Homo sapiens: one gene and its partner. The protein of the gene in region 2 purifies or fractionates together with the protein of the main gene of each other region. This does not show direct contact. Each region holds a gene or a part of one and is shown on either strand. Other genes may lie near its edges.

Region 1 (3,500 bases), on a different chromosome or scaffold from region 2:
TAAATCTGAGAATCATGACCAAAAACATGAATGATCAAAAATCAGGGATACCTGCTCTTGCCAAGTGGCATTTCATTTGCTTATTTATTTATTTTTGAGAGACAGGGTCTTGCTCTGTCACCCAGGCTTGGCATGCAGTGATACATACAATTCTGGCTCACTGCAGCCTTGATCTCTTGGGCTGAAGTGATCCTCCTGCCTCAGCCTCCCAAGTAGCTAAGACTATAAGCACGTGCCACCACACCCAGCTAATTAAAAAACATTTTTTTTTTTTTGTGGAGACAGGGTCTTGCTATGTTGCACAGGCTGGTCTCAACTTCCTGGGCTGAAGCTAACCTTCCATCTCAGCCTCCCAAAGTGCTGAAATTACAGGCATGAGGCCATGCATCTAGCTTCCCAGTGGAATTTTAATCTGAAATAGCATTGAGTCTCTACTAATGAGGCCATGGGGTAAGAGAAGGGTAAGAGCAGAGCCATCAATGTTTTTCTCTCAATTTTCACCGGACACTCACTGGTCAACTGAAATTATAGTATTTTTTGGCTGATAAGAAAATGGAACACTGCCTTTAATGAGGATTTATCTCCAACCTGGTGATGTTTTAAATAAAAATGTAAACATTTTTAATTTAAAAAAAATTTTTTTTAAAAAAGGACTCTAAATCTTGGGTCTAGACTGGTTGATCCAGTCTTGATGTGAAACCTCTGGTTCTCCTTAGGCCTTTGGGAGCTCCTGGCCTGTGTTACCCTGCTGGATTCTGAGGCCAGTATGGCTGAAACCAGTCTTCCAGAAGCACCTGAAAGACACATCCTTGGTTCTGAAGATTTAGAACAGGGCTGTAGTTGCTGTGTTCGAAAACGGCACAAAATCAGGAATCCCAGTGATGAATCACAGCTGCTTTGAACCATACACTGAGCTATTTCCAAGCCTTAAGGCCACACTGGACTGAGATATATACCTTTGGGCAGAGGAGAAGAGTACAGGGAAGGTAAAGCATCAATTGTGCTCCCTCATCTTCCCAGTACAAAGCCAAACAGGGAAATATAAAGGCTGTAAACGCAAGTAGAATGGTTGTGACATATATCCAATGCCCAGCCTTCTCAACCTACCTGCAGTGGCGGTCTTGGCCGACTTGGATGCAGAGGCATTGGCAGCATTCTTGGTCTCCTTGTCTTTCTCTTCCCCACGTGCAGCTTTGACCTCAGGAGTGGTGGTGGGTTTTGCTGCCTTTTCCACAGATTCTTTCTTCTTAGGAGAAGCCACCCTGGACACTTTATCCGAGGATTCTTTCAAGCCCGCTGGTTTTGGTGAAGCTGCCAAGGGCTTAGACTTCCCATCACTCTTTTTGACAGGTGAAGATGACTTGGTCTTTGTACCTGGCTTTTTGGTTTTGGTCTTCTCTTTCAGATCTTTCTTTAGAGCTTTGCCCAGGTTCTGCTCAATGGCCAAGGCCTCTGGGTCCACCATGGACACATCAGGGTGGCGTGGCGAAGGGCTGCGGTCTTGCACGGGAGCTGGAGGTGGGTCCATGTGTTTGTACGTGACAGTTTTGTCTGTGGGGATGGTTTCCGACTCGTCTTCAGAGTCGATATTGGCATCGGCCGTGATGGAGGGGCACTCTTCAGTCTCCGGGGGAACATCAGAGTCGGTCTGGGATGGGGCTGACTCGCTGACTGAGGTGGGAGGGGTTTCATCACACTGTCGGCCCTGTTGCTTTCCTCCTGGAGGCGGTGGGGCTCCCCCTGATTGAGTGAGGGGCTTTTCAGATTCTTCAGTGGGTTCTTCACTGGCAAACCACTCAAGAGGATTGGGATTAATGAAAGAGGGTGAAAGCTCTGTCTTGGGGTGCTTGTATTCACAAGAGGACACGAGGCATAAATCGACATCCTGACGGGCTTCTGAGGGGGACTTCTTTTCTGCAGTGTAGCATAGGTCTGAAGTCTCGTAGGAATATGTGGATGCCTGAGGGGTTCTAGTGATTTTCTCTGCAGTCTCGTAACAGTATGTGGAAGTATCAGGGGTTCGTGTTGTCTTTGTAGATGTCTCATAGGAATAACCTTCAGACTCAGGGAAACTGGTAATTTTCTCAGTGGTTTCATAAGAGTAGCTGGGGTCCCCAAGTGTGTGGCCACCATCCTCAGAGTCATCATAGCCATTGCTGATGTCATCCAGAAGCCTTCTAGACCTCTCAGTCTTTTCATAGCTGTAACCACTCACTTCGGGGGGGCTGGTGGTCTTTTCACTTATGTCATATGAGTACCCACCCTCTTCAGGGGTCCGTGTGGTCTTCTCAATAATTTCATAGGAATAGTCACCATCTTCAGGGGTCTTGGTAGTTTTCCCAATGGTCTCATAGGAGTAGCCACTGTCACTTGGAGATTTTGTGGTTCTCTCTATCTTCTCATAGTAATAGCCACCCACATCTGAGGTCCGGGTGGTCTTCTCATAAGACTCATAGTCATAATCTTCTTCATCTGGGGACCTGGTTGTTTCCTCAGGCTTTTGATAGGCATAGCTAAAGTCACCAGGTGTCTTCCCTCCACTGTCCTTCTCCAGGCCAGGTGTGGACAAATCTCTATTCAAGGCTAGATGGTGTTGCATTGTATCGAATAACACTGAGGCACGGAAGCCATAGGGCTCTGCGGATGCTGCATCTATTGGTGGAGAAGAGGAACTGTGGCAAGTTGCTGTTTTCTCTTTGACTGCAGAGGTAGAATCTGAAAAAGTAGGTGAATATAAAGGAGAGGACTCTCGTGGGGTGAGTGGAGAGATATCAGATTTTGGAGAGAGCTTCTCTCCTTCCAGACTTTGCACTTTTTCAGAGGTGAGTGAGGCATATAAGGACATATCTCTGGGAGGAGCAACATCGGATAGAGTATCTTCTTGGAGAGGAGAAGCGATCTGAGAAGGGGTATGAGCAGAAGAGGTGGACGGGGAGGCCTCTACCTGAGATACTGAGATGAGCTCAGAAAGATCATTATCTTGGGTGTAGGACGGCTCCTCCATAGGTGGTATCTTATGTGATAAACTGGAGTCCTGCATGTCAGAAGGACTGTAGTCCACTTCAGTTGGCCCATTTTCAGTGATGTGAAGCACGCCTGCACCCACTGTAGGGTGATCTGGAGACTGTCGACTGAAGTCCATAGCAAGGGATTGCTCAGGAGATTCTTGGCCAAATTCAATAGACATTGAGGACTGTTCAGATCTGTGATCTTGAACGGGTGTCCTGGACTTTGCAGTTTTAGGGGAGAAATCTGGTGGAGAAATTGACATCGGTCTTGGGCATTCTTCTTTAGATGGAGACATTTCTGTTTCCTGGAATGTGGTAGGTGTTTGCACAACAGACACTGAAAGGGAGTCATCTACTTCTGTGGAATGTGGGGAGCCAACCTCAGCATGCAGAGATGGAGACACATCATCTGTTGTTGGCTCTGGAAATGAGCTCGTAGCCACTGAGGCTGTGGACACTGAGGCCACACCCTCCATATGAGAGTACGTGTCT
Region 2 (4,116 bases):
AGTCCTAGCTACTTGGGAGGCTGAGGCAGAAGGTTCACTTGAGCCCAAGAGTTTGAAGCTGCGGTGAACTATTATCACCACTGTATTCCAGCCTGGGCAACAGAGAAGACCTTATCTTCAAAAATAACAAAAACAAAAACAAAAACAAAGCATCTTATTGGCTTGTTTTTTGTTTGTTTGTTTGTTTTTGGCACAGTCTGACTCTGTCCCTCAGGCTGGAGTGCAGTGGCACAATCTCGGCTCACTGCAACTTCCGCCTCCCAGGTTCAAGCAATTCTCTTGCCTAAGCCTCCCAAGTAGCTGGGATTATAGGCATCTGCCACCATGGCTGGCTAATTTTTGTATTTTTAGTAGAGACAGGGTTTCACCATGTTGGCCAGGCTGGTCTCAAACTCCCGACCCCAGGTGATACACCCGCCTCAGCCTCCCAAAGTGCTGGGATTACAGGCGTGAGCCACCGCGCCCAGCCGGCTTGCTTTTGTAAGCTATGTTTGTTTAAAAAAATAAAAATAAAAAAAAAGCAAGTATCTTATTGGAACTAATAGTTATGTTTCTTAAAAGCTAATTACAAATCAAATCATTATTAATGGAACCACATTCAAAAAGCAGCAGGGAACTGTTGTTTTTCAACAGATCCAACATGAATCCTTTGGTAAAACAGGATGATCTTTTAAAGTAAATCATAGGGTCAGGTGTGGTGGCTCATGTCTGTAATTCCAGCCATTTGGGAGGTCGAGGCAGGTGGAGCACGTGAGGTCAGGAGTTCCAGACCAGCCTGGCCAACATAGCGAAACCCCACCTCTACCAAAAAATACAAAAATAAGCTAAGCGTGGCGGTGTGTGGTGGCACACACTTGTAGTCCCAGCTACTTGGGAGGCTGAGGTGGGAGGATCACTTGAACCCAGGAGGCAGTGGTTGCAGTGAGCTGAGATCACGCCATTGCACTCCAGCCTGAGCGACAGAGTGGGACCCTGTCTAAATAAAAATAAATAAATAAATAAATAAATAAATAAATAAATAAATAAAGTAAATCACTAGCCGGGAATGGTGGCTCATACCTGTAATCTCCACACTTTGGGAGGCAGAGATGGGAAGACTGCTTGAGCCCAGGAGTTCAAGACCAGCCTGGGCAACATAGTGAGATTCTGTCTCAATAAAATGAAATTTTAAAATACAACAACAATAAAGTAAATCACCACTCTGGACTTTTTATCATGAAACATCCTTTTATTTTTTTATTTTTTTGAGACAGAGTTTTGCTGTTGTTGCCCAGGCTGGAATGCAATGGTGCGATCGCAGCTCACTGCAACCTCCGCCTCCCAGGTTCAAGCAATTCTCCTGCCTCAGCTTCCAAGTAGCTGGGATTACAGGTGCCCGCCACCGTGCCCAGCTAAGTTTTTGTATTTTTACTAGAGATGGGGTTTCACCATGTTGGCCAGGCTGGTCTCGAACTCCTGACCTCAGGTGATCCACCTGCCTCGGCCTCCCAAAGTGCTGGGATTACAGGCATGAGCCACCATGTCTGGCCGAAAGATTTAAAAAAAAAAGAAAAAGCTCACCCAAACCAACTAGGAATAGAAGAGAACTTTGTCAACCTGAGAAAGAACATCTATGAAAAACTCACAGCTAACTTCATACTCAGTGGTAGAAGACTAAAGCCTTCCCCCTAGGATCGGGAAAAGACAAGGAACTAACTTTGTCTATACCAGAATTTCCATGGAAATGCCACAGAAGAGCTTTAATGCTCGTAAATACTTTGATTATAACTCAGTCCATCACCTTTACTTTATGAATCAAAAAACTTGGGCTCAGAAAGGCAAAATGACTTATCCCAGGTCATATAGCAAATTAGGGGCTGACTTAGAACTACAGTCCACTCCCTACCTCTGTTAAATCTTTACTTAAGGCCAGATGCAGTGGCTCATGCCTGTAATCCCAGCACTTTGGGAGGCCCAGGCAGATGGATCATCTGAGGTAAGGAGTTCAAGACCAGCCTGGCCAACATGGCAAAACCCCATCTCTACTAAAAAAAAAAAAAAAAAAAAAAAAAAAAAAAAATTACCTGGGTATGGTAGTGGGTGCCTGTAATCCCAGCCACTTGGGAGGCTGAGGCAGGAGAATCACTTGAACCCAGGAGGCGGAGGTTATAGTGAGCCGAGATCAGCACCACACTCCAGCCTGGGCAACAGAGTAGACTCGTCTCTTAAAAAAAAAAAAAAAAAAACAGATTTACTTAAGAGATTGTAAATATGGATACCACTAATCAAATAGATAAGATCTTTAGGCAAGCGCGGTGGCTCAAGCCTGTAATCCCAGTACTTTGGGAGGCCAAGGCGGATGGATCATGAGGTCAGGAGATCGAGACCGTCCTGGCTAACACGATGAAACCCCGTCTCTACTAAAAGTACAAAAAAAAAAAAAAGTTAGCTGGGCGTGGTGGCAGGTGCCTGTAGTCCCAGCTACTTGGGAGGCTGAGGCAGGAGAAATGGCGTGAACCCAGGAGGCAGAGCTGGCAGTGAGCAGAGTTCGCGTCACTGTACTCCAGCCTGGGAACAGAGCGAGACTCCATCTCCAAAAAAAAAAAAAAAAAAAAAGCTCTTTAGTTGGTGACAGAACTCAATCAAGAATATTTTGGGGAGACTAGACAGAGGTATCACCAAAAAAGAACACTACAAAGATTTCTTATGGATATAGATACAAATCCTTAATAAAATACAAGCAAACTGAATCCAGCAACAAAGAAAAAGGATTATATACCATGACAAACAAGATTTATCCCAGGAATACAAGGTTGGCTTAACATTCAAAAGTTAATTAATGTAATACACCATATGAACAGAACAAAAAAAATGGTCATCTTAATAGATGCAGAAAAAAGCATCTGACAAAATCCAGCACTCTTTCATGATTTAAAAAAACACCCAAACTAGGAGGAGAAGTGAAATTCTTCAATTTGATAAAATACATCTATGAAAAACCCATAGCTAACCCCATACTCAGTGGTAGAAGACTAAAGCTTTCACCCTAGGATCAGGAATAAGACAAGGATGTCTGCTCTTGCAAGTTCTATTGAACCATAGTGAAGGTTCTGGCCAAGGCAATTAAGCAGGAAATTGAAACAAAAGATATCTGGATTGGAAAGAAAGAAGTAAAATTATCTCTATCCATGGCTAACACAATCTTATAAATAGAAAATCCTAAGGTGTCCACTAAACTATTAGAACCAATAAACTAGTTCACCAAGGTTGCAGGACACAAGGTAAAAACTGTACCTCTATACTCTTGGAATGAACAATCCAAAAATAAAAGTAAGAAACTAGTTCCTTTTACTATAGCATCAAAAAATAAATAAATAATAAAATACTTAGAAATAAATTTAACAAAAGTGCAAATTTATACTCCTTAAACGGAAAAACGTTGTTGAAAGTAATTGAAGACAACCTAAATAAATGGAAAGACATCTCATGTTCATAGATCAGACGACTTAACATTGCTAAGATGGCAACACTGCCAAAGTTTAACTAAAAATTCAATGAGATCCCTATCAGAATGCCACTGAGTTGGCTTCTTTGCAGACACTAACAAGCTGATCCTAGAATCCATATGGAAATACAAGGAATCCAGAATAACCAAAACAATGTTGAAGAATAAGACTCACACTTCTCAATTTCAAAACTTACTAAAAAACTGTAGTAGTCAAGACAGCATGGTACTGCTATAAGGAGAGACATATAGATCACTGGAAGAGAACTGAGAGTATAAAATAAATAAACCCATACATCTATAGTCAACTGATTTTCAATAAGGGTGCCAAGACATTAAAATGGAGAAAAAAATAGTCTTTTCAGCTAATGGTGCTGGAACAATTGGATATTTACATGCAGAAGAATGAGTCTGAATCACTACCTCACATGATATCCAGCAATTACCTTAAAATGGATCAATGATCTAAATGTAACAGCTAAAGCCATAAACTCTTAGAAGAAAACAGAGACATCAATCTTCATAATCTTGAATTAGTCAATGATTTCTTAGACACAAGAATAAAATGAAAAAGAAAAAAAAAAGGTTTCATCAACATTAAAGACTTTTAGGGCCAGGAGCGGTGGCTCACA

The links. Proteins that work in one complex are often made in the same cells at the same time.
Region 1: the proteins of RPS6KA5 (region 2) and MAP1B purify together in Homo sapiens (affinity purification with mass spectrometry; one large-scale study listed by BioGRID and IntAct). This does not show direct contact.

What each region holds. Positions count from the first base shown.
Region 1 is NC_000005.10:72,197,975-72,201,474, reverse strand, and holds part of MAP1B (microtubule-associated protein 1B), read right to left. Parts: coding exon 1,108-3,500; intron 1-1,107. UniProt on the Homo sapiens protein: Facilitates tyrosination of alpha-tubulin in neuronal microtubules. Phosphorylated MAP1B is required for proper microtubule dynamics and plays a role in the cytoskeletal changes that accompany neuronal differentiation and neurite extension.
Region 2 is NC_000014.9:91,050,260-91,054,375, forward strand, and holds part of RPS6KA5 (ribosomal protein S6 kinase alpha-5), read right to left. Parts: intron 2,204-4,116; exon of another isoform or gene 2,064-2,203; intron 1-2,063. UniProt on the Homo sapiens protein: Serine/threonine-protein kinase that is required for the mitogen or stress-induced phosphorylation of the transcription factors CREB1 and ATF1 and for the regulation of the transcription factors RELA, STAT3 and ETV1/ER81, and that contributes to gene activation by histone phosphorylation and functions in the regulation of inflammatory genes.